Regions from separate parts of the Homo sapiens genome. Here region 2 is linked to region 1. A link means that fine-mapping ties the variant in region 1 to the expression of a gene that starts in the linked region. Tissue or cell type: cerebral cortex. Region 1 holds a variant in brackets; the other region holds the start of a gene. All regions are shown on one strand. Distances are from middle to middle.

Region 1 (2,753 bases):
AGAGCAGAAGAGCCATCCTCACCACATCATACCCAGGGTCCACGATGTCAACATGCCTTACCCTGCTGATGTGAACCTTGATCACCAGGCTGAGGTCATCTTTCTCAGCTTCCTACTGTGAAGTTACTCTCCCTTCTCCCTTTCCCTACTGCACTCCTTGGGAGGAAGCCATCATGCAGAATCCTATTTCTTATTTATTCAACCATTCAATATCAGTATGGACTCACAGATATTTATCTTATATTTTGGGTTATAATCTAATACATTATTTTGATGCTCAAACTGTTCCAGCTTTCACCACTGGCAGCTCTTTCAGTTGGCTTCTGTGTCCCTTTGACATATCCACATCAACGTATGTATGTATGTATGTATGTATGTATGTATGTATGTATGTATGTAAGTGTGTGTGTGTATTTCCTTACTTTCCAGCTCTACGACATGTACCAAGTGCATCTTGTACATTTCCTGCCTCAGCCCTAGAATCAGTGGAGGAACTTACATTAGTATTCAATGTGCTTCTGTAATATGTTCTCAACCTTACTTTTCCTATTCACTCAGTACAACTGCCATGATTCAGCCAAGTGGCTGTTCATTAATCCCCCAAATCTAGACTCCTTATAATTTCCTGTCCCAAACTGGGACATTTTGGAGTACACGTCATCAGGACAACTTGGACTGCCCAGGGCAACCAGGACAAATGGCTACCCCACCTATATGGAATGCTTTCTCTGCTCCCAGGAAAACTTCTCACCTTCTTCTAAACGTCAAAGACTTATTTGGCATTTAAAAAATTCTACCCTTTACAGTTAATTACAGTTTATCTCCTTAAAAAGTAAAGTATTCACACGAGAAACAGTAACTTTAAAACAACTATTACAGAAAAACGTGCTCATTGCAGAACACTTGAGAAATAAAAGGGGATGGGGTGGGTGGGGGTATAAGGGAGGAAAAGGAGAGGGAAAAACCCAGCCACGATTCCGCATCTAAAAGATGGCCAAGGTTAATGTTTCAGTGTTGCTATTTATATTTTTTAAATTTACAGTAAGAAAAACTGAAGCAAATATGCCAAATGTTGGTAGTGGCTAATTCTGGGTGGTGAGAATATGATTACTGTTTTCTTCTTTGCACTTTCCACATTTTTCTTTCAAATAAACCAAAAACAAAAACAAAAACAAACAAACAAAAAAACACCCTTGTTTTTTTCTTGACTACAAAAATAGCACCTGATCAGTGTTAAAAACCTGGAAGAGATAGAAAAACGCAAAGGACAACACACACACACACACACACACACACACACACACACACACACACACCCCCAAAGGAAAAAATTAACAGTAATATCCTGAATCACAGTGTGTA[CAT/C]GTGTGTGTGCATGTGCATATGTAAATTTTATATAATTTTTAAATTAATAAGTAAAAGAAATATCATGAATGGTTTTATATGAGAATATATCATTTTCACTCTCCTGATTTTTAAGAGCTACGGAAGTAAAATGAGTGGTTCAGGTATATAATGGAAATGTACCACTCGTTTTATTTCTGTAACCTCATCACTTACTGCTGGTCATTGCAACCGTTTCAAATTTTTCTTCTATTATGAACAAAAACTCCAATAGGTAAATCTTGGTGTGCACTAAGAGTCATACAGGATCAATTCTGTATACTGTGTTCAAGGCTTTGACACATTTTGACAAACTGCCCTAGAGACAGATTGAAACATTTAACATTTTTGAAAAGATTGAAACAGTTTACATTTTACTAACCACACTTTGGTTTGTATATCAGGATTTTTTTCTTGGATTAGTGTTTGCCTTTCACTTTTGTACATGCTTGTGTTTAATGTACAGAAGCTTTTGATTAGTGTGAAATCAAATCTACTAAATCCGCCTTTTGTGAGTTCTTCTTTTGGTATCAAACTGAGGATGACCTGCTTCCTCCACTCCATCAACTTGCAACTATTTACCTATATTTACTTTATTACTTTTATGGCTTCCTTTTGTTAATCTAAATTCTATCATTAGTATCAAAGTTATAGTGTGCACAGTCTAATAAGGCAACAAGATTTCTTAAGTAAAACGTTAGTTCCCAGGACTCCCTAATCTCATTTGCCAGAAACAACCACTTTCAACTCAACTGAGTTTCTAGTATTTACCTTTGCACATCTAAAGATAAATGCTTATACTGCTACCTCTAGATCGTTAGGTTTTTAGGCACTAAAAATCTACTTTAGCTATTGACTTTTTACTTCGGAAGATGAAGATTTAAAATTAAACAAACAAAATATTTTTGGGTACCCATCGCTATTTCATGAAGCCACACTTGCAGCTCTTCTTCTCAATATAGTTACAGTATAATAACTTGGTTAGCTCAATATTAAGTAAACTATTAGGAGGATATTGTGAGTTTTCTTCCATCCTGCCCTTGGGAGCCAGCAGATTGTTCAGCCTCAGTCAAAGCTTTAGGGCATAGCAGTTGTAGCCGATGTACTGAGTCACAAACTCGTAAGAGTTTCCAAGTCAAAGCTCCAGCTATGCCACTCCCAAATTCCTGACCAACAGAAACTATTTGTTTCCAGCCACTAAGTTGTGGGATAATGTGTCACGCAGCAGTAATACATAAATAACATGCATACTTTTTTTTTAACTTTCCCTAAAATTGGTAATTGTCACTTTTCTTTCATTTGCTTGTCTACGTACTTATCCCCAATTCAATCTGTGGTCTAACTCTGGTTTCAACACATTCATCGTTATC
Region 2 (2,603 bases), 70 kb before region 1:
CAGGGGCGGCCCCGGGATCACATGGGCGGAGGCAGGTCCGGGAGCCCCGGGCGGGCTCTCCCCAGAGTCGGGTAGACGGCAGCGGGAGCGGTGGCGTCTCCCCGCCTTCCCTCCCTCCCGGGCCTGGGCGCCCAGCCGGACAGGTGAGCGGCAGCCAGGTGAGCGCGCCCACCTGCGCCTCTCCGCGCGGCCCGCCCTCCCCGGCGCCGGGCTCCTCTCCGCGCCCCTGTCGGCGCGGAACCCTGGCCTCGTCCGCGGCCCAGCTCCCTGGAGCCTCGCATCAGCGGGGGCGCCCCCGCGAGCTGCGCTCTCCCCGGCCGGAGCGCTCCTCCTCCAGCCCCCAGCCCGCAGGGTACTTTGCCCTCGGAGCGAAGGAGGCTCCAGAACTGGTAGAGCCGGGCCATCGGGCTGGGCACCTCCCCGCGGCGCCCGCAGCGCGGAGTCCACTGACCGGCTCAAAGGTCTGGGAATCTCGGGGCGGCCGCGAGCCGGCCTCGGGGACTGGGGTGGGGGCGGTGCTGGGAACAGAGGCTAGGCCTGGGCCCAAGGGGAAGGCAGCCGGGGATGGAGCGGACAGACCGCTGGTGCTCTTGATAGATTCTCGCAGCACTTGCGTCCCCAGGGCAGCCCCAGGATGGGTGCTGGGCAGGGTGGTGCCCAGCCTGGCACCGCGGCTTCCTGCCTGGATTGGCTCCTGGCTCCAGAGCTAGAGGCTCAGGAAATCCCACAGGGGTCTGTCTGCAAGGGCACTTCCTTGCCCAGCGGAGGGGCTGTGGATGGGAGGCCTGTCACCCCGGCTGTCTGTCGGGCAGCATCAGGAATCTGGGGGTGGGTGTGTCCAGCTTGACAGATGAACCCTGGCCTCCTTGCCCTGGCAGCCGGCCCCTGGGGGAGGTGGGGAGCCCGGTCTTGCCCGTGTGATCCACTTTGCCAAGAACGAGGTGGGCAGCTAGGAGGCCCATGTGAAGACTCGGCCTCACCCCACCAGTCCTTCACCTGGCCAGTGACTTACACAGTCTGTACTGGTGCCAGCCTGTTCCTTGACCCGTCACTCCTGCTTCCTGAGCCCTGCTCTCCCTAGGCCACTCACCAGCCCTCCCCCAGAGTGGAGAGGAAGTACCGTGTGCTGTGGGTTTTGGGGACAGGAAGCAAGCGCTAGTGGGACTGAGCCCTGATGGTGGAGGAGGGGAGACTGAGGGGGTGCTGGCATCCCCTCCACTTGCCAGCCCCTGCCCCCCATGCTCCAGCAAGCCCCCTGCCTGGCAGCCTGGGCAGCCCCCTCCTGGGAGTCGCTCCCTGGGCTGAAGACTAAGGAAGGGAGAACCCAGAAGCATGGCTTCCCAGGGTGGGGGGAAGTGAAACCGGGCTGAGGGAGGGAGTTAGCCACTTCCTCTACCCACCCCAAAGCCCCTGAGTAGCTGCTCCGGGAGCTGTGGTGCCCTCTCCTTCTCCCTTTGGCTCCTCTCCTGCTGCCTTACAGTGCCCCCAGAGCCGGCTAGGGGCATGGACTTCACCTCCTGGTCCTCTCTTCCTCAGGTATGGCGTTGACGGTGGATGTGGCCGGGCCAGCGCCCTGGGGCTTCCGTATCACAGGGGGCAGGGATTTCCACACGCCCATCATGGTGACTAAGGTAAGGATGGTGGCTCAAAGAGATGAGAAGGTCCTGCCAGAAGCGAGGTCGGCCCTGTTCACCCCACTCTGCACAGATGGCTTGCTTTTTCTGTTCTGGAGCTAGGGATCTGCTGCTGCCTGGCGTGCTGGCTGTAAGGGAGCCGTGGCCCTTTGCCACGGGGATGTGGTGGCCACTTCAGGAACAGACCTTGGGAGTGAAAGGGAGCTGGGACCAGGACAGGGCCGGCTCTTGCCTCCCCAGTTGCTATCCCCACACTTGCAGGCAGCCATTTGGGGTGATTACTAGAACAAGAGCCCCGGAGTTCTTGGCAGTCTCCTCTTGACCTGGGCCCAGGCTGGGAACATTCACAGGAGGGCTGTGCAGGCAGCCACCTGCAAGGTGCGATTTGCACGGGCAAGGCTCTCTATCCAAAAGTATTTCCAAGCACAGTTCCTGAAATTCTGCCACTGCACATTCTTTGGGAGGCCCATTAGAATGCCAGTGTGGGGTGGGGGCTGCCACCTGCGCTCCTGGAGGGGATGGCTGATCAGCTGGGTGTCATGAGCAGGCAGAGGGACATGCAGGAGGGTGCAGGCCGGCCTGGGTCAAGCCAGCCTCTGTGTTTCTTGGGTAGCAGAGTGGGAAGTCCCTTCTCCAGCTGGGCCACGGTCTGAGCATGCCAGCTCCTCATCCCTACAGGTGGCCGAGCGGGGCAAAGCCAAGGACGCTGACCTCCGGCCTGGAGACATAATCGTGGCCATCAACGGGGAAAGCGCGGAGGGCATGCTGCATGCCGAGGCCCAGAGCAAGATCCGCCAGAGCCCCTCGCCCCTGCGGCTGCAGCTGGACCGGTAGGGCCTCCCGCTCTGCAGAGCCTGTGGCATTCCCCCTCCTCCACCACCCCACGTATTGAGCAGCCCTTGCTCCTGCCCATGGGCTAGAGCTCAGCCCTAAAGCGGCCTTCTTGGGCCCTCTCCACACCTTGGTGAG

The links. PIP is the estimated chance that this variant, and not a neighbour inherited with it, causes the effect.
Region 2: PDLIM2 starts here. The variant in region 1 is fine-mapped to the expression of PDLIM2 in cerebral cortex (GTEx, PIP 0.96).

What each region holds. Positions count from the first base shown.
Region 1 is chr8:22,648,543-22,651,295 of GRCh38, forward strand. All of the region lies in intron 1 of BIN3 (bridging integrator 3), which reads right to left. Among named protein-coding and RNA genes, the nearest start is that of BIN3-IT1, 7.7 kb to the left of the region's middle. The variant CAT/C (reference allele first, on the strand shown) is at 1,363.
Region 2 is chr8:22,579,067-22,581,669 of GRCh38, forward strand. PDLIM2 (PDZ and LIM domain 2) reads left to right here and starts at 1,409. Exons shown (of 9, transcript NM_001368120.1): 1 at 1,409-1,631; 2 at 2,313-2,464. The coding sequence starts at 1,539. RefSeq lists silencers at 1-125, 196-265, 366-455, 466-625, 1,356-1,445.